Linked DNA regions of Homo sapiens. The protein of the gene in region 6 purifies or fractionates together with the protein of the main gene of each other region. This does not show direct contact. Each region holds a gene or a part of one and is shown on either strand. Other genes may lie near its edges. The genes, in order: FLNB, GART, FLII, STON2, ARHGAP42, MYO19 and BNIP3L.

Region 1 (3,500 bases), on a different chromosome or scaffold from region 6:
TGGAGCACTCAGGAGGCAATTAACCTGGTCTGCGGGAGACCAGAGAAAGCTTTCCAGTAACATCTCAGTTGCGGCACAAGAGGGAGCAGACAGAGAGGTGCTTCAAGTAGAGAGGCCTCAGCACATGCAGGAGCCTAGAGGCGAGGGAGGAGACAGGCTGCTGGAGCAACTGAAGGAGGAAGCCAAGTGGTGGAACAACAGAACGGAGAGAGATGGGCAGGCCCTGCAGCCCACATCCAGCCCTGTCCCCCACACATGGCTCCTGTGTGTCCCCCAGACTCCTCTCCCTCCAATGCAGCTGGCACCTTCTGACCACACTCAGCCTTCTCGGTCACTCGGCCACCTGGTGAAGCCTTGCCGTCTTCCTGAGTGTAAGCTGAGCTCCTGCTACATGGCTGACCCCCCGGGGGACCCTGAGGGCCTCTGACTCCTTGAGGGTGTCAGTTTTAAAGATGAAGCACAGAGGAGTCGAGGAGAGGAGATAGTGATTTGCTAGAGAAGTGCTAAACAGAGAAACAAGGGCTAGGCCAAGGACACTCATGGACTCCACTGTGGAGGGGGACCTCCCCATCCAGCGAACGGCAGCATGCCTCAGGCTACCACGCCCATCACCAAGGGGCTACGTGCACCTCTGCCTCGCATGGGAGTCCTGGTGCTCCCCATGGTATCTGGCAAAGTTAATGACTGCCGTGAAAGCTGAGGGATCTCTGCTTTGCATCCCAGAGAATTTATACTTTGTAGAATTAGAGATGGTAGACAGCCAAGACACACAAAGAATTGAGTCCCTGGCTTTCTAACAACAGCTGGGTTTCAACGGCATCCAGGTCTTTAGCTACGTGAAATAAATGGCTGGCCCTGGCAAACAAGCACAGGCCTCCACACTGGGGTGAGAGGAACAAAAGGGGGCTTTACTTTAGAGAGTGACAGTTGAGGATTTCAATGTCAACAGCTGATGGCAAGGGACTACCTCTGAGGCCAATCTTTAAGTCAGAGCCTCCACTAGAAGTTGTCTGAGCTCAGCATGAGAGTAGCCAAAAACCAACAAACCCGGGTAAGATAAACTGTCCAAGATGGCAGACCCCAAGCATTATCCGCCACTCCCCTGTTCCATGCCCAGACACATGTCACCATTCCCTCATGCCAGATCTTCTTCCTCATGCACTCTGAACCCCAGTCAATCCAGTGGTCTAGGGAGCCGCCACCAACCAACCACAGCTGGCCTACCACAGGAAATCAACATGCCATTACGGGTAAGACAGGACACGTTGTTAAAAATAACTCCACTCCGGGTTTTTAACCAGGCCAGGAAAAACTAGGCTAATATTTAAGCACCCAGAATTACCATGAAAGCAAATTAGAAGGTGGCAGGTAGCCGACTGTTTCCCGGCAGTACCCCCATAGGTTGCCTTAGCTAAGAAGCCTGATGCTTAGAAAACCAACCAACACTTCACTAAATATCTCTGCCTGGGAAAGTTCTGGGGTTCTGGAAAAGCCGGCATTTGGCTCTCTGGGAGGCAACAGAGAGCCTGAAACATAAAAAGGCACCATCCACACCTGATGGGAAAACCACAAATGAGTGTCTTTCTGTTGTTATGCTCAAAGACGACCATTTGCTTTAAGCTCACAGGTCGGCCACAGGGGACAAACTCTGACCCCTTTCTGTAAGGGGGATTCGGAAGCTGGTGGCACTCACCAGCCTTTCCCCATAGTCAAAAAGTTTCATTGCCACAGGAGATGTTCATCTCCACTGTTGCCTGCCAGGTCGGAGCCACATCACCCCTCCTGGGAGCAGCCTTCTACCCGTTTCCTGTGCCCAACTCTCTCCTAACGCAAGTGTTACAAAACTCCAAAACAAGCCCGTAGCTCTGAATTCTGTCACCGAGCCCCATTCTCATTCTTCATAGCAGTCATCACAAGTTTTAGTTGTAAAAGCCCTAGACAGTAAGCTCCCTGAGGGCAGGAACTTTGTCTTGCCCACAGCTGAAGTCCCCTAGACTAGTGATTATAGGAATTTTTTAAATCTATATTGAATGAGCCGCAAGCACAAGTTTGAGGAGAAACATGTTGTTTTAAATGACTTGAGGCTTAAATGAGTATCTGAGTAGAATCAGTCTGAGTTGAATGTCAATACTTTCTGATCAGTGTGAGAGAGAGTGAGTGTGAGTGTGTGTGCACATTTCCATGTGGTAAGGGGGAAGCAGGAATGGAATCAGGAAAGCGTGTGGTCAGTGGACACTCCAGCTGCCTGAGAGTTAACCCAGAACCCAGCAGTGGGCCCCTCAACCTGCCCTTCCCCTCTCAGCGTGACCCAGAGAAAGAAGAACAAGACCCCGCTGAGGCTCTTTCTGCTCCTGGGGTCCTGGGGTGGGGCTTTGCCCTCTTCACACCACACCTAAGACAAGGCATAAGTGGCCCAGAACAGCCCCAGCCCTCGGTCTTCTGTCCACACCACACACTTGCCTGCCCTTTTAGAAATGGGGGCGGGGGAGGTGGTCTCAGAATTCACCACTATAGAATTCATCCATGTAACCACAAACGACTTGTACCCCAAAGCTATTGAAATAAATAAATAAAATGTGTGGGGGTGACAATCATTTGAGTAGATAACTAGAACCTATGGAGAGTCCTCCCCCCAAAACAAATGGAGGAGGGTCTTTCACTACTTAAGTCATATATTTATTTATTGTTTGAATCTTTACAGCAGTGGTTCAGGCTGAAGTGATTTTGTCCCTTAAGACATCTGGCAAGATATGGAGACATTTTTGGTTGCCACAAATAAGAATGGGGAAGGAGAAGTCTGCTATGGGCATCTAGCAGGTACAGGGCAGGGATGCTGACAAAAGTCTACAATGAACAGGACAGCCCCACACCACAAAGAATCATCTAGCCCAAAGTGTCATAGTGCCGGAGTTGAGAAACCGTGTTTCACAGTGATTACACATGACATCACTAAATACAAAAGAAAGAATTTGAATCTGCATATCTTGATCAGCTACTAGTATTGTCAGTGAAAAAAAAGAAACCAAGACACATGAATAAGGAGCCAAGCACAAAATAAGGTAGAAATTTTCTTTCTTTTTCTTTTTTTTTTTTTTTGAGACAGGGTCTTCCTCTGTCACCCAAGCTGGAGCGCAGTGGCGCAATCTCAGCTCACTCAACCTCCCAGGCTCCCATCTCAGACATCGTCCCATCACAGCCCCCACCCCACATAGCTAGGATTACAGGCACGCACCATCACACTCAGCTAAGTTTTGTATTTCTTGTAAAGATGGGGATTCCCCATGTTGCCTGGGCTGGTCTCAAACTCCTGACCTGAAGCAATCTGCATGCCTTGGCCTCCCAAAGTTTGGGGATTACAGGTGTGAGCCACTGTGATTTTCAACTTTGTAAAGAACCAGCTTTCCCCTGAATCAAGAACTAGGTCCTCCAACACACGCACAACTGTTTCCAGTCAAAATTCTAAGCCGATGCTTTTTGCCATGTTACCGGTTCTACTGGGA
Region 2 (3,500 bases), on a different chromosome or scaffold from region 6:
TCAAGACCAGCCTGACCAGCCTGGCCAACATGATGAAACCCCATCTCTACTAAAAATACAAAAAATTAGCCAGGCATAGTGGCAGGTGCCTGTAATCCCAGCTACTCAGGAGGCTGAGACAGAAGAATCACTTGAAACTGGGAGGCGGAGTTTGCAGTGAGCCGAGTCTGCGCCACTGCACTCCAGCCTGGGCGACAGAGTGAGACTCTATCTCAAAAACAAAAACAAAAACAAAACAAAAAAAAACTGAAATAAAATAACTGGATTGTTTGTAACACAAAGAATAAATGCTTGAGGTGATGAATACCCCATTTACAGGGATGTGATTATTACAGGTTGTATGGCTGTATCAAAAGATCTCATGTACCCTATAAATATATATACCTACCATGTACCCATACAAATTAAAAATTAAAAAAACTCCCTTCCTCTTGGGATAATGGATTAATAGATTGTGAAAAGCACAGATATTCCTGGATAGCCTCCAGTTCCATCCATATTGCTGCAAACGACGTGGTTTAGGATATGTAATTGCTCCTAGGATATGTAATTGCTCCCACAAATTCTGTATCTTGTGATCTAGCATTGTAGTAGAAACAGTATAACATTATGTTAAAACTGACTGATGAGAAATAAGCTGCTTAATTAAGCAAGAAAAACTGACCCTCTCAAGAACAAACCACTATGCTATGACTCTTACAATAGTTTCTTTAAAAAAAAAAAATTTTAGATTCGGGGGTACACACGCTTGTTTATTACATGGGAATGTTGTATAATGGTGGGGACTGGGCTTCTAGTGTACCTATTACCTACATAGTGAACATTATACCTGATAGAAAAATTTTCAACCCTCACCTCTTCTCCCACACTTCCCTGTTTTGTATCTATTGTTTCCATCTTTTTTTTTTTTTTTTTTTTTGAGATGGAGTCTTGCTCTGTCTCCAGGCTGGAGTACAGTGGTGCAATCTCAGCTCATTGCAACCTCTGTCTCCAGGGTTCAAGCAATTCTCCTGTCTCAGCCTCCAGAGTAGCTGGACTACAGACGTGTGCCACCATGCCCAGCTAATTTTTGTATTTTTAGTGGAGACAGGGTTTCACCATGTTGGCCAGGATGGTCTCGATCTCTTGACCTTGTGATCCGCCCGCCTCAGCCTCCCAAAGTGCTAGGATTACAGGCGTGAGCCACAGCACCCGGCCCTATTGTTTCCATCTTTATGTCCACATGTACCCACTGTTTAGCTCCCACTCATAAGTGAGAACATGCAATATCTGGTTTTCTGTTTCTGAGGCAGTTCACTCAGGATAATGGCCTCCAGTTCCATCCATATTGCTGCAAATGATGTGGTTTTATTCTTTTTTATGGCTGCATCTTACAATAGCTTCTTTGCTTTATTATCAACTTGGGCCTAAAGTACATTAAAACCTTAAGATCGACCTGTAAAGCAATTAAACTTCTGGGAATGAATCCTGAAGAAGTATCAGAGCTGGTTGTGGTGCTGCATGCCTGCAGTCCCAGCTACTCGGGGGGCTAATAAGGCGGAAGGATTGCTTGAGGCCAGAGCTGGAAGCTGCAGTGTACTATGACTGCATCTGTGAATAGCTACTGTACTCTAGCCTGGGCAACATAGCAAGACTGTCTCAAAAAGAATCACTATGATCTTGGCCATCAAATAAAAAAAAATCACATATGCATTTAAGAACATACTGAATATTTGCAAGAATGTTCATAGCAGTGTTACTTACAATAGAGGGAAAAAAATCAGGCTACATCCATCTGAGAGAATACAATACTCTTATTACTTTACCCCTCTATCCATAAAGGTTAAACATAAACTTCTTCTAATTAATAAGATAACAATAAAAATTCCTCAACTGTTTTCAGACTTTTCAACAACAAAGCTATGATACAAAATGAGCTGTAGCTTCTATCTTTTCTGGTTTCTCTTTAACCAGCTTTCTGACATCCTTTACTTTTTTCTTTGGGAGCTGTCTCAAATTCCTAAGAAAAGTGGAAAGACTAAGAATGCTGAAAAGACAAAGACAACCCTCATGATTCCCCCCAGTCCCTAGACTCTGCCGAGAGTAACCTTACAATCTCACAAGAGTGCGGGGAGGAAAGGAAGGGCAGTCAACAGCTCTACAGTGAAGGGGAAGCCACATCTCACCTGTTCCAGATATTAAGACAGCCACTCTGGCCTTTTTTTTTTCAAAAGAGAAATGATTTGTCAGGGAGCCATTCTTCAACACTGACCCATTTATTTGCATGCTTTCAATCAGATTCTTGACTTTCACACGTGGGGAACCTTCATTTCAAACATATCCATAAATAAGTAAAGAACAATTGTGAATTAACAAGAATAATGGAAAGAAAAATATTTTATGAAAACTTTAGGGTATGTTTTATCCTGAAAATAAGATAATGCAAGGACTAAAATGAACAACACATTTGTATCACTTAACACTACTCTTTCATAAAAACTTCCAAAAGGTGAACATATGTAATTACTTCAACTAAAAGCTGCAGATCACATCACTATCTTGAAGTGCACGGTGGATATATATGACTGCCTGCCAGTATTCTGCCCCTACTCCCCAAATCTTCCTAGCGAGACCACCCACAGTAGTGCCATGATCTCCTGGTCTCGGGGATAAGCATGTGACCTAGCAAAGCCATTTAAAGGCTTGATATGCGATGTTAAGAAAAAGAGGGTCTCTCTTTTTTTTCTTTTTGAGATGGAGTCTCGCTCTGTTGCCCAGGCTGGAGTGCAGTGGCGCGATCTCGGCTCACTGCAAGTTCCGCCTCCTAGGTTCACGCCATTCTCCTGCCTCAGCCTCCCGAGTAGCTGGGACTACAGGCGCCCGCCACCACGCCCGGCTAATGTTTTGTATTTATTAGTAGAGACGGGGTTTCACTGAGTTAGCCAGGATGGTCTTGATCTCCTGACCTCGTGATCCACCCGCTTCGGCCTCCCAAAGTGCTGGGATTACAGGCGTGAGCCACCACGCCCGGCTGGGTCTCTCTTTCTTATTGTAATGTGAGCTGAAGGATGTTATCTTTCCGGCATTTGGAGAACCCGCTTGAAAATGAATCCTACACAATAGAGGAAAGAAAGGCAGATACAGGTAAAGTCAACAAGGTCTGACATTTTTTTTTTCTATTTTTTATTTTTGTGAATCTTCTCTGTATCGTTCCAATTTTAGTATGTGTCCTGCCAAAGCAAGCATGTGACGTCTTTGTTAGTGAATCTGAGTGGATTTTCTGCCCCTCTGCCAAGTTCTAGCACTTCTCGCAGAGTCCTGACTGATACAGTACTTGTCAGGGTGCTTGCTCGCTATTCCTTGAATCGAGCTGAGTGACAGCAGAGCCATGAGGTCTTGTGTGTAGGGAGATTACTTTGGGAAGCGATCCTGTGGGGTGTGGCTGTGCATGCATGAATGCTTAGTTCTGAGGCAGAAATGAAGAGATACGTGGTATCGCTGGGGTGGGTGCTGTCATGTTA
Region 3 (3,500 bases), about 18 Mb from region 6:
GGGCTGAGAGGTCAGGGAACTGGGTTCTCCTCCCACCCACCTCTGGGGCTGGCTGGGGGCTTAAATGAGACTGTGGAATGTACTCTGGATGCAGGGAGGTGGGGCCCACCTTCTCCCCACGGGCACCCTGGCACTGGCCACCTCCCTCAGGAGGCCTCTGCTGGGTCCCCCTTGCTCCAGGGCACACCCCTTGCTTGTCTCTCTTGAGCCCTCTCAAACCCAGCATGCCTGACCTCGATCTCCGTCAGGAAATGGATGGCTTCTGGGAGGGTCACCAGGTGGTTCTTGTTCAGGACAAGTTTCCTCAGCTTTGGGCACCTGTGAAGACAGGGCCAGCCAGGGCCTCAGGCAGGTGACAGACAAGGGGAAGTGGGCAAGAAAACCCCTAGTCCTGGGGAGGGGAGGCAGGTAGGGTCAGAGGAACTGGCGGGGGTCTCCATTCTCTGCCTGAAGGACTTCTCAGAGCCAAGAGACCATGTTACGGGCACTGTGATCTCCAGAAGGGGAGAGAAGCAACACTGCGTTCCCACGTCATGTGGCCTTGTCCCTAACAGTGCCCCCCGAAGGGTGCTCTCAGGGGCTCAAGTTGGGAATGGCTGGCATGGGACTGTGGTCTTCATCCACAAAGGTGAGTTAACTGGGCCGGGCGTGGTGGCTCACACCTGTAATCCCAGCACTTTGGGAGGCTGATCATTTGAGGACAGGCATTCAAGACCAGCCTGGCCAACATGGTGAGACCCCATCTCTACTAAAAATACAAAAAGAGCCGGGCGTGGTAGCGCACGCCTATAATCCCAGCTACTCAGGAGGCTGAGGCAGGAGATTCGCTTGAACCTGGGAGACAGAGGCTGCAGTCAGCCGAGATTGCACCACTACATTCCAGCCCAGGCGACAGAGCGAGACTCTGTCTCAAAAACAAAAAAGAAAAGAAAAGAAAAGAAAAGGTGAATTAACCCATCTTCATTTTGTCTGACTTGCACAGACCACAAGGTGGGCTCTGACTACGATCCCGGGGTTCTCTGTGCTGCAAGTGCCTCTGCTAGCCCCAGCCCTGCCCAGCACCTGCAGAGACTTTCAGGGACCAGCTCCAGGTTGTTGTTGGCAGCCATGAACTCTTCCAGGTTGGTGAGCTTGCCAATGCCTGAGGGCAGCCCGTCAAAGTCCAGCTTGTTGGAATTCAGGTACAGCTTCTTCAGCTTGCTCAGCTTGCAAATGGCTGACTGGAGGGGGAACGGGCAGGGGTGGGAGGTCAGGGCCAGGCTCACGGCCTTCCTCCCATCCCCCTACTGAGGGCCTCAGACGCACGGGCAGTGAGGTGAGCTGATTTCGGGACAGGTTCAGAGTTTCCACGTGCACCCACTGGTCTATGCACAGGGACAGCTCCGTGATCTGGTTGCTGCTGAGGTTGAGGCGGCGCAGGCTGGGGAGGGTGTACAGACACTCGGGCACCCGTGTCAGGTCATTGCAGGACAGATCCACGTCTGGGGTGCAGGGTGGGGTGCATCAGCTGGGGCCCATACACCAGGTGCCAGGGCAGCCAGCCCTAGTGTGAACCCCAGCTCTGCCACCTCTGAGCTGTGTGGCTTAGGCAAGTGACAACTGCTGTGCGCCCAAGTTTCTCCATTTGGACAAACTCCCTCACATGGGGGTTGCGGGGGAGTTTTCTAGGCATAAAGTCAGTGTTAAGGCATCATCATAATCGCAAAAGTCACTGTAACATAACTCCAGCCTTTTCCCTCTGGGTATTGGTCCGAAGAGCAGGGTTCAACCCCTTCCACCCAAGGAAGCAAGAGGGCCCAGAGGGGGCCCGAGCTCAGAGGGGCTCCTGGGGCTGCCTGACCTGCGAGGTTGCTCAGACCCTCCAGGCTGGTGGGCAGGTTGCTCTGGGTGCGCTGGGTGCTCCGCAGGTGCAGGGTCTGCAGGGCCGTCATCGCTGGGAGCTGCCTGCCAGGGTGACGTGAGTGGTCAGGGCCAGGGCCCACCTAGGGAGTGTTAAGGGTGGGGCTTGGCAGGGCAGGACCAAAAGCACAGGGCCCAGAGGGTAGGTGTGAGGTCACATCTGGTTGAAGGGACAAGCCCAAGGGTGGTTGCGGGGTGTGTAAGCGGGAAGACAGGACTGAGAGGTGGACATGATACTTAGGAGGTTGTACACTGAGGGGTGCTGCCTGCACGGAGGGATGGCTGGGCCTAAGGGAGAAGGGTTAGGGCCCTGGGAAGTGAAGGGGCCCGGCCAGACTCCTCAGGGTGGCTTCTGCAGGAGTGCGGTCCGAGGGGGCGCCCACCGGAGCTGTGCATGCAGCAGGGGGTTTCCATTGAGCACGAGCGTCTGCAGGTGCACCAGGCGGCGCATCTGCGGGGGCAGGCTCTCCAGGCGGTTCTCGCTGAGGTCCAGGTATAGTAGGTCAGTGAGGTTGATGAAGAGCTGGTTGGGGATGGTGTCGATGCTACGGGTGGGGAGCAGGAGCCACCTGAGTCAGCACCAGCCACCCCACAGGGCCCACCTGCCCCCTGCCCCCCACTGGCCTGGCACCTGTTGTGGCTGAGGTTCAGCACCAGCATGTTCTTGGCGTTCTCCAGCTCCCGCGGGCACTCTGTCAGCTGGTTGTGGCTCAAGTCCTGGGTAGAAGGGGCAAGACCCAGGTCAGGGGAGTCTCCTCCCCACCAGGCGTCTGCCAAGCTTGGGGATCAGGCAGGGCACTGAGTTGGGTGTGGGGGTAGATGAGGGGGCTTCAGGGCCAAAGGGAGACAGCCAGGGACTTGGGAGGAAGAGTGCCTGTGTTAGGGATCTGACTCCAAAAGTGACCTCAGGCAAGGTATTATCCACTCCAAGACTCAGTTTTCCCATCTGCAAAATGGGATAACAATGGCCCCAGGGACTTTTATAGTGAGTGGGGATTGAATGGTCCGGCTAGCACAGGGGCCAGGTGAGTGGGTAGCCACTGACCAGGACTGAGAGATCATCTAGCTTGAAGATGTCATCGGGGACTCCGGAATTCTTCAGACTGTTGGCTCGGGCCACGATGGCCTGGGAATAAACCATAAGAGTCTATAATTCCTGGCTTCCACTCTCAGGAAGGAACAGAGTCTAGAGAGGGACACCTCCTCAGGCAGCTCACCAGAGGCCAGGCCTGAGGACTCTCTCACCTCTGGCCTTTGATCAAATAGCTCCCTCTCCTGGAGCGCTCTTCCTAGCCTCCCAGTGAGCTCCTATTCATGCCTCAAAGCCCAGCTCAAATGTGCCCCGGAGCCCCAGCACAGGGCCCTCAGGGAACCTTTTCTGTTCAAACCATTTCTCTTCTTCTTAATTCCAGAAGGTGAGATAGGGGTAAGGTCTGAGTCAGGGTTTTCAGAACAGAGGGAGAGAAGTGGACCACAGAGAAATCAGAATCTGGATGGAGAGGAAGTCTGCTTTCTCTCCCTAACTTAAGACTGACACCTCCTCATACCTTACAGACATGCAGAAAGCTTGAGCATGAGGGAACAGGGCCAGAGAATGGTGT
Region 4 (3,500 bases), on a different chromosome or scaffold from region 6:
TGGATTTCTGCTCAATTCTGAGCACTGCGCTATGTCTTTGAATATCCACACCTAGCAGAACTATACAGAGGAAGTGCTTAGTAAATATCTGGTGACTCAATGAGTAAATTATAAGGAGCTGTAAGGTTTAGGGACAAAGCACACTGACATGCACACATCTCCTTAAGAAATACCCTGCATCGTGAGCTGGGATCGCGCCACTGCACTCCAGAGCCTGGGCAACAGAGCGAGACTCCGTCTCAAAAAACAAAACAAAAAACAAACAAACAAACAAACAAACAAAAAGTCCTGCATCATTACAGATTTACAGATGCTCCCCTAATTCAGACTGACTCATTCTCAGCCTTATGCAAAGGGTTCCATTTTAAGATTTTACAGACTTAGTACATTAGTTTCCTATGGCTGCTGTAACAAATTACCACAAACTTGGTATCTCAAAACAACAGTAATTTATTCTCTCACAGTTCTGGAAGCCAGAGTCTGAGATGAGAATCACTGTGCTAAAATCAAGATGTCAGCAGAACTGCACTCCCCGCAGAGGCTTTAAGGAAGCATCTGTTTCTTGTATCTTGCAGCTTCTGGTGGCTGCCGGCATTCCTTGGCTGTGGCTTCATCACTAAAATCTTTAAGATCAGCATTTTCAAATTTCTTTCTGTTTCATCTTCACAGTGCCTTCTCTTCTGTGTAAGCAAAATCGCCCTCTGCCACTTTCATAAGGATGCATGTGATTGCAGTTAAGGCCCACAGATAATCCAGAATTATCTCCCCATCTCAAAATCCTTACTCTCATCTACAAAGACCCTTTTCCCAAATATGATAATATTTATAGGTTCCAGGGAGGACAACCTAATGTCTTTGGGAGCCATTACTCAGCTTAGTATTACTGGAAGAACAGAGCAGGTAGCAGTGATTGCAGCAAGTCTCACACTGTCTCTACTTGCTGCAAACATCTGTGTTATTTCTGCATAATGCCTGCAGTTACATATGTGGTATTATTGCAATATACAGCACATGCATTCAAACATTTTGGATTCAAATTAAAATCTGAGCTGCACAACAGCCTCCTGAATGGAATGACTGTGTAACTTGGGGAATGTCTACATTATCCATTATGTGGGGGCAGGAGTGGGGGGCTAACGCCTAGTCTCTCCTGTGTAATTGGCCTTAGCTCTGCCAATTACTCTATCCTTATTGTTAAACACAATCCATGGGAGGAAACCCAAGAGGGAATTAGCTTATGTGGGAGAGGTTAGTTTGGGTAATAGGAATGTACTCTGCAGCTTTTGATTCAGTTTAGGTTCATTGATGGGTCAAGTTGGGTATTGGCAGAAAATTTGGAATTGAACCATTTTCTTTACCACTCTAATGCTGTGCACCGTCCCCTATGCTCCTTGGGTTTCCAGGTTAGAAACACTTCTTGAGGTGGGGCTGGCCCTCCACATGGTTTATTTCTGCTTCTTGCCTACAGACTGGGCATCAAGTCTGCTGGGAACCCATCCTACAGGACCCTCCTAAGGTAGAAAACTCCATCTCCACAGGGTTGAGTTAAATTTTCACACATATGAACAGATGGAATTATTCATACTTGAGCAGTTTTCAAAATTATGCTTTCATGCATTTGAACACTGTCATTTCTTGATTTATTCTCTAGTAATATTAATACATCTAAAATTCTTAGGACAATGCAGGGCTGAGATTAGGCTAAGGCAAGTGACACACTTGCCTTGGAGGTAAAATTTAAGAGGGTGCCAAAAAACTCAGTAATCAAAGTAACATTTTAAGGCAATATGTTAAAAATATCAACTCAAAATCAAAGCAGCAAACTACAGCTCACAGGTTGACTATCTCTGTAAATAAAGCTTTATTAGAACCAGTGAGACAGCCAGAGGGGAGGGGGTTCCCAGAAAAACTCCAACTGGCCTGTGCACTGGGGTGGAGCTGCGGAAGTTTGTGCCACTTGCAGCAGGGAAGAGCCTGGCCCCTCCTCTTCCTGTGTGGAACCTGGGATTTGGGCGCGGTCCGGAAGTGCTCTAGATGAACTCTGGCCTCGCTGAGAGTCCCTGTTTCCCCTCTTTTTTCCTTTTCACCCAATAAAGCCCTGCTTTACTTACCCTTCAAACCATCTGTGAGCCTGAATTTTCATGGCTGTGGGATGGACAAGGACCCCATCTTTAGCTGAACTTTAGGAAAATTCCTGCAACACCAGGTCCAGGTGGGCCAAGTGTAGCATAGTCATGAAAGTGTTAATTGAATCTTGTCTTTAAAGTACTGATATTTTGTTCATTAAGAATTTTTTGCATTATGTGATTTTAAAAAATAATTTTAAAATAACTTTAATTTTTAAACTGAATTCTTAAATATTTTTTTAAAAACTTTTTTTTCAAGACAATTATTACAATTTGATATGGAGCAAAAGTGCTTCATGTATTTTTTCCCAATCTGTCACAGAGAATGTTAAAAAGACATACTCAAGAATCACAATTTTAAGAAATTAATAATTTTTACTGCCTCATCAAGGATATTATTGGGTGAAATATACATTTTGTTTTACTGTGAGTAGACAATGGCCAAAAGTTTCATCTGCTGTTATTTTTTAACCATCAATGCAAATGTCAATGCAGTGAAAAGGCAAATAACATCTTAGAATTAGAATGAAAATGATTTTAACCCCAAAGACGCCTTGAAAGGGTCTCAGGAGACAGCAAGGTCTATGGGCCAGACTGTGAATTGCTGCCTTAAAGGGTAAAGCTTTCACAATATATCAAAAGCATTGTCAGTCACAAGATAAGATCCTCAGTCAGATGGGGGCAACATAATTATGACTAATCTCAAAATTAGTTTTGGAAAAATCAGTGAAGAGTTGAGCAAATTGACTGTCATATAAATAGTTTTGAGCAATCAGGAAATCTTTGAGGCTAAAGATAAAATGTGAAAGAATCTGAATGGCATGAATATAATCCATGACCTGAAGGCACGGCCATTTTAGGGCAGCAAAGTGGAGAAAGAGCACCCCACCCATCACTTACCTTCCATTCCTTGCCCCCACTGCCTCCTGGGTAATGAGGGAGCAGAGGATACTAGAGCAGCAGCAGCAGCAGCAGCAGGAAGAGTGAGGCAAACGGAAGGAGAGCACAGGGCATCCGAAGGCTGCTCCAAGACCTTGGGGCCGGTCAGCCTGGTGCGGAAGCTCTCCTGCCATTTCCTAGCACACAATCTTGGTTGAATTCCCAAAGCCCACTTCTGGCTGAGTCTCCTCCACCATGTGTAATATGGATTAATATTAATACCTTCCTCATACAATTGTTGTAAGGAGTACATGATATGAAGTAGCTAAGGCACTGAGCACAGAAACTGAGACAATAAGTATGCAGTAAATGTATCATATTAAGCAGAAGGAACATTATTTCTGTGCTCATTCACTGCCCAGTGTTCCGTAACTTTTCCCTACATGCATCAACACTTAGCCCAGAGCCTTCTCAGTGTTAGGTGTTCAGTAAGGG
Region 5 (3,500 bases), on a different chromosome or scaffold from region 6:
ATTCATATCATATGACGGCAATCACAGATCTAAACAAATGACATAAATGTGATCATTGCAAATAAAATATGAGGGAGAGGGGATTGATGGAAGCACCTGCTGTCTGCCAAAAATATTTGACTCATCTCCAGATTGAGGAATACAGCACATGAGCATGTGCAGGGACATAATCGTCTGTACGTATTTAGAGTCCTGCTTAGTTGCTCTTAAAAGAAACTGGTATTTGTCATTCAAATAAAATGAAATTAGAATAATAATTCCTCATGGTTCTTTATAATCACCACACTTACCCAATGAGGTCTCACTAAGTGTCAAAATATTTCAGTTAATTCTGCAATTTCTTATTGGCTTCTAAAACACATTATAAATTACTAAATATCAGATTAACAACTTTTTTCTTTTTTTTAATTTGAGATGGAGTTTCGCTCTTGTTGCCCAGGCTGGAGTGCAATGGCGCGATCTCGACTCACCATAACCTCCGCCTCCTGGGTTCAAGTGATCCTCCTGCCTCAGCTTCCCGAGCAGCTGGGATTACAGGCATGTGCCACCATGCCCAGCTAATTTTGTATTTTTAGTAGAGACAGGGTTTCTCCATGTTGGTCAGGCTGGTCTCGAACTCCCGACCTCAGGTGATCCGCCAGCCTTGGCCTCCCAAAGTGCTGGAATTACAGGTTTGAGCCACCGCACCCGGCCCAGATTAACAACTTTTTAAGCAATACTTGAAAAAAATCTTCACTAGCTGATACTAGTAATATATGCCTAAGTATGGCAGCATAAAACTACATCAATTATAATGTGTATATGATGCAAGTATACTTACTAACAGCAATGATAAAATCTTTGTGCAACTTGTAAGTCATCAGTGGTTCTGCAAGGCACCTACAACAGAGAAAGGAAACACATGTTAGAATAGTAGAATCTTTTATTCTCCCCTAAACGTTAAGTGTTTCTTTAAGAATTAGGTGACTGTTATTCATCAATTAAAAATAAAATAACACATAAATAAGTAAATAAAAGAATTGGGTGATTTGGCAGTATGATAAAGTTCCAGTAGTGGGGCCACAGAGAGACCTGAAACGCAGACCTCGAAGACACCAATGTACTTCTTTCCATGACTGTATTAAGAGGGGAGACTGGGAGTCTCCCAATATCAGAATTACCTTACCAGAGGAACAAATATGGGAACAATAGTTAAAAAACAAAACAAAAACAACACAACTTTCCATTCCAATTTGTTATTTAAAAAAGTACATAAAAATCCCATATACATATGGGACAACAAATACTAATTCAGTACTCAAAATATTATATAGCCTTTTAAATTATTATTGAAAAAATCAAGTACAAGTTCCAGAACACTAAATGTAAATGTTACCATGTCATGCTATTTCACCTTATGTAAGGGAACTGAGCTACTGAGTGAAGCTTCTGGACACAGGCTCCAAGAAATCACGTGGTTACTACTCAAGGGGTGAGTCAGAGATTACATCCAGAGTACCAGGAGTTAAACCCTCCTCACCTGAGGTAGTTTTTCAGCCCACTTGTTATCGTCTTATTGTCCCACAGTTCAATATCAATATCAATATCAGGAGGGGATTTAGGAGCTGGAAAGAATAAAACAAGGTGTTTAAATTGTGCAGTTCAAAATATTTCTTATGCAATTATGAAAAATGGGCACAAACGTAAGTAGGTCAAAAGAGAGAGGTATTCATTTCTTAGAATGCCAAGAGTTAACATTAGTACTGTTGTTTGCGTGAATTGATAAAAAGCTGACACTAAACCTCAAAGATATATCTTATGAAATAAGTCTCCCAAATGAAATTATTGCTAATTGTTAACATGACAGAGCACTTACCATGTGCCTAGCATGCTTCTAAGTGCTTTACGGAGATTAACATAGTCAATCCTCACAACTCTTAAGAGGCAGGTACCATTATTATCCCTATTTTTATAAATGAGGAGGCTGAGACACAAAGACGTTAAGCAAATTACTCAAGGTCACAAAACCTGTAAGTGGCTGAGCTAGGATTCCAAATGACTCCAGCTAGCATCCATGCATCTTATTGTATCTCTAGCTTACCAAAGGACACTTGGGGAAAAAAAATACAGTATTATAAAAATGCCCCCTCAAATTCTCATCGTTCATCTATTATAAATGAACATTAAAAACTGAATACATATATGAACTTTAAATATTATTTGAAAATATTCAAAGACAAGCACTAGTCAAAGAAGTCCATACTTTAGATTACCTATAAGAACACAAAAATTATGTAAGTTGCTTCATCCAAAACTTACAAAATGTGGTATTCATGAGTTTTTGAACTTTGGAGTTCACTCCTCCTATTCGGTAGAGTCCTAAAATGGTGATACCTAATAGGAAGGAAAATCACAAGAAAACGGCTTGAGATACAGCTTGGCAAGTACAGAATGTTAAAAACTCAGACATATGCCTAACAAAATTTGAAAGCTACTTATCCAATTTCACAGTCTAACTTTAGCAAAGCTATCCTGGAAATACCCATCAGACTTCTATTTCTCAGAGCAGACACTGAACAGTGATTTGAAAGTCTTTGAAGATCTTCAAAGTAGCAAAGTGTAGCTGCCTATTCACCATTATTTGAATATAAAAAAGCAATGGAGATGGGAAGGGATGATCGATATTACTCATATTCTATTTCTTCAGAGTCATGGAGTCCTCCTGCATGTTGAAAAGTCCTATGGCATTTATATCTTCATTTTAGAGATGAGGAAACAGATTCAGAGAATTCAAGGAAACTACTTCTCAGAATGTTGAAGTGGCAGCACTTAAAATTTAAATATAAGTTTATGGAACTCCAAAACCCAATATGAATTTTGCTTTAGCCAAATTTTCCTAGAAGTGAGTTTAAAGTTTAACTGGAGTGGACTTCAAGACAGAGGTCATGATTAAAACGAAGAAAGGTACCAAAACTGTGGCAGTGACAAATCAGTAAAAGAAAGACTATAAGGAAGGAAGGGAGTGAAGACAAGCTCCTTAAGAATCTTACCTCCTTAATGCTTGGAAAAAAAAAAATCAAAGAGGTGCTTGCAGTAATAAATAATGCAGGGCTTCTCAATAAGAAGTATAGTGAGGCTGTATTAGAAAAAAATCTAAAAAAGAAGTATGCCTAAAGCATGATTTTTAGTAAACTGAAGCTCAAGGTATAGCTATTTGTATACCGATACATACATTTATATTACTCTTAAAATTAATCCATGTTAATGACCAAATACATCTTCAATGATTTATCTACTCTGAGAGTTTTCCATGTAAGAATGAGACACATGACAGGGATGCTGTACCAATCAGGCAACACTGACCTCTTGTTTCCACAGCTTGAATGCATTTTCTCACAAAGTTGAACCCTGCTTCATTCAAATACACTGAAAATAAGAGAGAAATCGCATTAGGTGTTTACGCTGAACTCACATTCCCCCTTCAGTTGGCTCTGTTCACTGGGCCTTTATGACTCAACAGT
Region 6 (3,500 bases):
GCTGGAGATGGTGCAGATTAGAACCATCAGGGCAGGCAGACAGCAGCAGGTGTTCCGGAAGCCCTGCGCCCGAGCCGAGTGTGACACCCGTAGAGACTGCCTGGCCAAACTGATCTATGCGCGGTGAGCAGTTACTCTGGCCCCTTGTTGGGGAGGACCCCGACAAGTGCTCTTCCTGTCCGGGGTTGGGCCAGACAACATCAGGCAATAGGCACAGGCCCAGGGTGGGAGATAAGACAGACTGGTTCCTCTCCCTGCTCCTCAAACCCCTGGACACATCAGGGCACAGCTCCCAGGTTTCACCAAGCAGCGTCTGTGGCCTCTTTCTGAGTGGGAAAGTTGCTACATTCCTGGCCAGAATTCAGCTCATTATTAAAGTTCAGGAGGCTGCTTTAGCCTCAGCAAGGTGAAGAGAACCTGCTCAGCTGTCTGCTGGCAAGGCAGGCCCCAAAGGTGATCTAGAGCCTTCGCAGTTCCTGCTTCAGATCCTTGGCTGAATGGGCCTCTCTGTCTCCCTGTGCCTTTGTACATCACCTAGGAGTTTGATAGATTGTGGTAAAGCCAGAGGCTCAGCCCACAGCATGTAGCACAGTGGTGAAGGTGGGGTCCTGGCCTTTTCTGGTAGATTACGTGGGTACCTCCACCCTCTGGCCATGTGGTTAAGGATGATCTCTCACCTTGAGTTCTGAGATTCTTCAGCAGGCCTTGTAAGGGCTTCAGGGGCCCAGAATCCTCTGAGATGAGCCAGAATGAGTGTATGTGTGTGCATGTGCACATGAGACCTTGGGCACCTTTCTGGGGAGAGGGTCCCCTGCTTTCATAAACTCCACAAAGAGCCAATAGCCTGAGAAGCTCTGCTGGGGGAACCAGATCGTCCGAGTTGAAAATGGTCCAGGGCAGCTGAGGCCAGACTAAATCCATTTCAGCAAGAGACTAGTTACCACTGCCTCAAGCTAATTTCAGGTCACAATTTGAGGTCAAAGGCTTTTAAAGCCTTTGCCTACAAGTCACTCCAAGATGAGCAGATAAAGTGTGATGAACACAGATAGAGTGAGCTTCTGACCACAGGACATTTGCACAGCCCCTGTTGCAAAAAGAGCCAGTTTATTTACTGAAGGGAAAAAAGTTGCAGAGCAATTACTTTAAGAAAAAATGTGAGGAAGAAACCCCTGTATAGTGCTGTACGTGTCAGCGTCTTGTGTGGTAGTCTCATCTTCTCTGGGCTGGGGCCGGTTCTAGAGTGGAGGATGCCATTGTTGACCTCGGGACTGGGGGCCCACTTGTGCAGAACTACATCAGGGGGTATGGTGGGGCCTTGAGCTCTGGGCTCCACCGGTAGAGTTTTGCAGGGGTGTTCAATGAACTCAGTTATTTACAAACCACACCCAGGCCCATCTGCCCCTTCCCAAGACACTAGCTGGGTCTCGAGCCATGTGACTGAGCTCGACTGATTCCCTCCCCAGCCTAGGAGCTGAGCTTGTCCTGTGCTCAGTCTTCCCATAAGGACATGCCAGGTTTGTGTGTACCTGGCAACATGCATGCCCATAGCCTGCATCTGTAGTAGGTCAAGACGTGATAGGCCGGAAGCAAGAGGAGAGGATTTGGTCTTTGACCTGTCAGGCTCAGAATACAAGGGCCCCCCAGGGTGTAGCACCCTGATGGGGGGAGCAATTTTACCACCCCTTTGACTCAGCCAGACCCTCTTACCAGAGTCCACTCTCTTCCCCCAACAGGTTGTTTGACTGGCTGGTATCAGTGATCAACAGCAGCATCTGTGCAGACACCGACTCGTGGACCACTTTCATAGGTAGCAAGGCCTCACTGTGCTGGGAGCACTCCAGAAAAAGAGCAATAAAGCCCTGGATGGAGAGGCAGGAGCCCTGGGTCCACTGTGTGACTCTGGGCAGTTCCTTTCCCTTTTTTGTCTCCTCTTGCATCTGCCTGCCAGCATAGAGCGAGATCTCTGCATAGGGTGAGATCTCTGCTCTCCTGCACCCACATCTGAGCAGTCCATAACTCTCCAGACAGGCTCAACAGTGCCTTGTCTGAAAGAGCCCTTTACCTCCCCAGAGACCCAGCTCTAATTGTGGGAGAGTAGTGGGGGTTGGGGAAAATAGCTGTATTAGAAGGGACTTTGGAGGCTGGCACCGTGGCTCACACCTGTAATCCCAACATTTTGGGAGGCCAAAGTGGGAGGATCACTGGAGGCCAGGAGTTGGAGACCAGCCTGGGCAATATAGCAAGACCCCATTTCAAAGAAATTAGCCAGGCATGGTGCTACATGCCTGTAGTCCCAGCTACTCAGGAGACCGAGGTGGGAGGATCACTTTAGCCCAAGAGTTTGAAGCTTCTGTGAGCTGTGATCACACCACTGCACTCCAGCCTGGTCAACAGAGCAAGACCCTATCTCAGGGGGGAGAACAAAAAAAGACTTGGGGGACATGACTGAGGGAGGTCAACACGGTTGTAACTAGGTGGGACAGTCAGTTATAGGAGGAAATAAAGCTTAAAGGTACAAGTGCAGTTTGCTCATGGAATGGTGGAATTCTAGGCACCAAATTGGCTAGTGAGACTAATGCCCTCCGAACTAGATTTAACACAGAAAATGTTCCCTGGGACCTGGTTTCCTCATAGGAGGTGCCTATCAGAACCAGAGAATTCAGACTCAAAAATGGGCCTGATGCTCTGGGCTGTCTTCACACTTCATTTGGGTTTCCTGCTTGCTCTGAGCTCTACAGGGGAATGGGGTAGAGATGGGAGCCACCTTGGGTGGAGGGTGGGGAAGGTATGTTCTGCCCACCACAGGTGTCATGCTCACTCAGCCTGATGCCCAGGCTGCCAAGTATAAGGCATTGGCAGGGGCCCAGCCACCCTGGGTTCCTTGGTCCCCTATTCCCCATCTGCTCCCTGCAGTGGCCCCATGGGTTCTCTGCCATCTTCCCAGGCCTGCTGGATGTGTATGGATTTGAATCATTTCCTGACAACAGTCTGGAACAGTTGTGCATCAACTACGCCAATGAGAAGCTGCAGCAGCATTTTGTGGCTCACTACCTAAGGGCCCAGCAGGTGAGGGATGGGGTGAGCAGGAGGCAGGTCCTTCTTTTGGATCCTCAATCCCTTCCTGACCTTCCAGCCCCAGTCCAGGTTCTGATTAGAAGCCTTTTGTTCCTTCTTATTTTATTTTTAATTGACAAATAATAATTGCACATATGGAGTACAATGTAATGTTTTGATATACTTTTGTTTCTTTGATGCTGTTCTGGAATACGCTGTGGTACCGAGGCCAGCCGTGGATGGCCCGTCAGGACATCAGACCACAGCTGCCTTCTCCCACCTCATCCCACCTTGTTCTTTAGGAGGAATACGCAGTTGAGGGCCTGGAGTGGTCATTCATCAACTACCAGGACAACCAGCCCTGTTTGGATCTCATTGAGGGAAGCCCCATCAGCATCTGCTCCCTCATAAATGAGGTGGGGAGGTCAGCTAATGAGCCGAGCACC
Region 7 (3,287 bases), on a different chromosome or scaffold from region 6:
GTTTCACCTGTTTCAACAGTTCTATACCAGCTTGTCCACAGGTTGAACTCTACTTAAAACTCTTCAGTCTTTGTAAAAGGCTCTAAAGGTTTGTGGGTACCGCTCCCCAAACACCGTGAAATCATCACTGACTTTCTTAAAACCAGTCACCAGCCCGGCCAAACTGGTTTTATATGAGTTTGTTTACTCATTAAATATCGGGGCTCGACAGCAAAGGGGTAGTGATTAGACAAAGTAAAGCCAGAGAGAACAGATCCCTCCACAGAGTAAATAAAGCAGCCCAACTCCTTCAAGATGTTCCTCTTTGGTGGACAGAAGGTTCTACTGACATTTCAGACACAAAAATATAGTAATATGTGAAATTATTCTGGTGCTCTATGTAGGACAAAAGAAAAAAAAAACCTTAAAAGCTGCCAGTGCTTTAAAGACAGCTCTTACTAATAACTCCTAAGGATTAGGGGCCTTATAATACTTTTTCATGCCAAGAAAGTATTTGGCCTCTTCAACAGCAAAAGCAGAAGGGAAGTTAAGGAAAGTATGTAACTAGCTTCACCTCCAGTGCAATTAAAGCAACGAACTTTTTAAACACTCTTTTTACATTCATCTATAGCAATAGTTATACTTACAGCCAAGACAAACAATCTGAAGATGACTGAAAGAGAGACGGCAAGGTATAGACACCAATCGCTTAAGGGCAATGAACTGCTGTATAGGCAGCAATGTATTAAACTCCTACACCTGCCCCACATCAACCCCCACGCAACAGTCACACAGTCCCCTTCTGCACAAACCCCTTCTAGGTTGCTGTTTGTTGATTACTGTCCTTGCCCTCACAAAAGCAGATCAAGCACCCAAGAGAGACAAGACGGGTGTGTGGAAAGCTGTATGCAAGTTTCTGAGGTCGTGACTAAGAATCTCTCTCCAATATGCTGAGCTCCTTAAAGGGAAGAAAAAGGATGACCCCATCTTCTGCATATCTTATACTGAAAATGACCCACTGGGCATGCTTAGAGCACAACATACGTCTTGAAAAAAATTAACAGCTACTGTTTAACTCCTAAAATCTTTCAGAAGTGTAATTCCTCAATTGTTTAAATCAAGGAAAAAAAGCAATTTATTTAAAAGATGTGGCTAAGAAACTAATGAATTACACGTAAATATGAGGTTGATTTTAGCAAAATAAATGAAAATACTACAAAGTTAAAAAAGGAAAAAATTAGCACCAATCAACCTACCAGTTTCATTAAAAAAAACTATTCAATGTAATCATGTATTTTCCCATATGAAAAAAAGGTATTTGCACTGACCACAAAATGTACATGCTAAAGATTAGTTTAGTTCATAAATTACTCAAGATTAAATATTACACAACAAAACCCAAAAAGAAAAATCAATCACAGAGGAGTCCGCTTACATTTGATCATTTAGGGGATTATTATGAACATCTTCTTTTTTTTTTTTTTTTTTCCGAGATGGAGTCTCACTCTATCCCCCAGGCTGGAGTGCAGTGGCATGATCTCGGCTCACTGCAATTTCCGCCTCCCATGTTCAAGCGATTCTCCTGCCTCAGCCTCCCAAGTAGCTGGGACCACAGGCATGTACCACCATGGCCAGCTAATTTTTGTATTTTTAGTAGAGACCGGGTTTCACCATGTTGGCCAGGCTGGTCTTGAACTCCTGGCCTCAGGTCATCCACCCATCTTGGCCTCCCAAAGTGCTGGGATTACTGGCATGAGCCACCACACCAGGCCAAACATCTTATTTTCAAATAAGAAAACACACTCTACTATTATTAAAAATGCTTATTTGTAGAACAATTGTGCACCCACTTTTTTAAGTTCACCTTATTTGCACTAAAACATTGAAAGTAAAGCAATAAAAACTGCTTTCACATACATTTCTTCAATCTGAAAATAAGAGGATAAAATGAATGGAAAAAACTTCAGGAGTTGACCGGTACTTACCCTAGCCCCAAAGCCAAAACATGAGAAAGGAAGAGAGATGGAATGAACACCTTCAGAAATTCTGCGGAGAAAATACCCCCTTTCTTCATGGCTCCACTTTTCCTCATGCTTAAAGACACAGAACGTTTAGGGTGTCTGAAGTGGAACTCCCTGAGAAAGAAATTCAGAGGCAGATGTCATTTGCTGAAAATATCGTGGGGATTACCAGGCCCATTGCCTGTAAGCGTGCGCAGATCAACTGTGTCCACTGACAAGAAACATGTGAGAACTCACTTGGGTGGAATGTTTTCGGGTCTACTGGACCAGTCTGATACCCAGTCCGCACTTTTCTTCAAAGCCTCGACTTCCTTCTCTCCTTCTACAACTTCTTCTTCTGACTGTAAAGAAGAATTCAAACTTTAAGAAAAAAAGGAAGACCAATTCCTCCTAATACAAAGAAAAATCTAGACAGAAAAGATACCAAACTCATAAGGTTGTGTCTCAGAAATTTTAGATAACAAACATGTTGCTTTTCTAAAAAATGCTGAAAAATAATGTAAGATCAGAGTATGTAATATCTTCAGAACAACCTGAGTGAGCTTCACTGTTGGGATATCTAAGCACAGCACAGGAACTGCATAAGACTGTACTTTGGGATGTAATGCTAAGGGAAGTATGAAAAACCTCGATAAGAGTTAAATCTGGGCAATACTTACATGGAGGTCCATTATATTATTCTCTCTTGTATGCACTTAAAATTTTCGTAATTAGGCCGGGTGCAGTGGCTCATGCCTATAATCCCAGCACTTTGGGAGGCTGAGGCAGGCGGATCACTTGAGGTCAGAAGCTGGAGACCAGCCTGGCCAACATGGTAAAACCCCGTCTTTACTAAAAAAAAACACAAAACTTACACGCTGGGTGCGGTGGCTCACGCCTGTAATCCCAGCACTTTGGGAGGCCGAGGTGAGCGGATCACAAGGTCAGGAGATCGAGACCATCCTGGCTAACACAGTGAAACCCTGTGTCTACTAAAAATACAAAAAAATTAGCTGGGCGTGATGGCGGGCACCTGTAGTCCCAGCTACTCGGGAGGCTGAGGCAGGAGAATGGCGTGAACCCAGGAGGCGGAGCTTGCAGTGAGCAGAGATCGCGCCACTACACTCCTGCCTGGGGGAAAGAGCGAGACTCCGCCTCAAAAAACAAAACAAAACAAAACAAAAAAAAATTAGCCGGGCATGGTGGCGGGCACCTGTAATCCCAGCTACTTGAGAGGCTGAGGCAGAAGAATCGCTTGAGCCTGGGAGGTGGAGGTTGCTTGAGCCTGGGAGGTGGAGCCGAGATCCA

Evidence for each region.
Region 1: the proteins of MYO19 (region 6) and FLNB purify together in Homo sapiens (affinity purification with mass spectrometry; one large-scale study listed by BioGRID and IntAct). This does not show direct contact.
Region 2: the proteins of MYO19 (region 6) and GART purify together in Homo sapiens (affinity purification with mass spectrometry; one large-scale study listed by BioGRID and IntAct). This does not show direct contact.
Region 3: the proteins of MYO19 (region 6) and FLII purify together in Homo sapiens (affinity purification with mass spectrometry; one large-scale study listed by BioGRID and IntAct). This does not show direct contact.
Region 4: the proteins of MYO19 (region 6) and STON2 purify together in Homo sapiens (affinity purification with mass spectrometry; one large-scale study listed by BioGRID and IntAct). This does not show direct contact.
Region 5: the proteins of MYO19 (region 6) and ARHGAP42 purify together in Homo sapiens (affinity purification with mass spectrometry, with the first as the bait; one large-scale study listed by BioGRID). This does not show direct contact.
Region 7: the proteins of MYO19 (region 6) and BNIP3L purify together in Homo sapiens (affinity purification with mass spectrometry; one large-scale study listed by BioGRID and IntAct). This does not show direct contact.

What each region holds. Positions count from the first base shown.
Region 1 is NC_000003.12:58,126,922-58,130,421, reverse strand, and holds part of FLNB (filamin-B), read right to left. Parts: intron 1-3,500. UniProt on the Homo sapiens protein: Connects cell membrane constituents to the actin cytoskeleton. May promote orthogonal branching of actin filaments and links actin filaments to membrane glycoproteins. Anchors various transmembrane proteins to the actin cytoskeleton.
Region 2 is NC_000021.9:33,507,618-33,511,117, forward strand, and holds part of GART (trifunctional purine biosynthetic protein adenosine-3), read right to left. Parts: intron 2,304-3,500; coding exon 2,166-2,303; intron 1-2,165. UniProt on the Homo sapiens protein: Trifunctional enzyme that catalyzes three distinct reactions as part of the 'de novo' inosine monophosphate biosynthetic pathway.
Region 3 is NC_000017.11:18,252,239-18,255,738, forward strand, and holds part of FLII (protein flightless-1 homolog), read right to left. Parts: intron 3,026-3,500; coding exon 2,945-3,025; intron 2,617-2,944; coding exon 2,531-2,616; intron 2,445-2,530; coding exon 2,283-2,444; intron 1,945-2,282; coding exon 1,841-1,944; intron 1,482-1,840; coding exon 1,306-1,481; intron 1,221-1,305; coding exon 1,063-1,220; intron 319-1,062; coding exon 234-318; intron 1-233. UniProt on the Homo sapiens protein: Is a regulator of actin polymerization, required for proper myofibril organization and regulation of the length of sarcomeric thin filaments. It also plays a role in the assembly of cardiomyocyte cell adhesion complexes.
Region 4 is NC_000014.9:81,390,325-81,393,824, forward strand, and holds part of STON2 (stonin-2), read right to left. Parts: intron 1-3,500. UniProt on the Homo sapiens protein: Adapter protein involved in endocytic machinery. Involved in the synaptic vesicle recycling. May facilitate clathrin-coated vesicle uncoating.
Region 5 is NC_000011.10:100,959,788-100,963,287, reverse strand, and holds part of ARHGAP42 (rho GTPase-activating protein 42), read right to left. Parts: intron 3,406-3,500; coding exon 3,343-3,405; intron 2,374-3,342; coding exon 2,299-2,373; intron 1,605-2,298; coding exon 1,520-1,604; intron 880-1,519; coding exon 821-879; intron 1-820. UniProt on the Homo sapiens protein: May influence blood pressure by functioning as a GTPase-activating protein for RHOA in vascular smooth muscle.
Region 6 is NC_000017.11:36,507,369-36,510,868, reverse strand, and holds part of MYO19 (unconventional myosin-XIX), read left to right. Parts: coding exon 1-123; intron 124-1,733; coding exon 1,734-1,807; intron 1,808-2,944; coding exon 2,945-3,066; intron 3,067-3,356; coding exon 3,357-3,470; coding exon of another isoform or gene 3,471-3,478; intron 3,479-3,500. UniProt on the Homo sapiens protein: Actin-based motor molecule with ATPase activity that localizes to the mitochondrion outer membrane. Motor protein that moves towards the plus-end of actin filaments. Required for mitochondrial inheritance during mitosis.
Region 7 is NC_000008.11:26,407,054-26,410,340, reverse strand, and holds part of BNIP3L (BCL2/adenovirus E1B 19 kDa protein-interacting protein 3-like), read right to left. Parts: intron 2,342-3,287; coding exon 2,238-2,341; intron 2,115-2,237; coding exon 1,965-2,114; intron 1-1,964.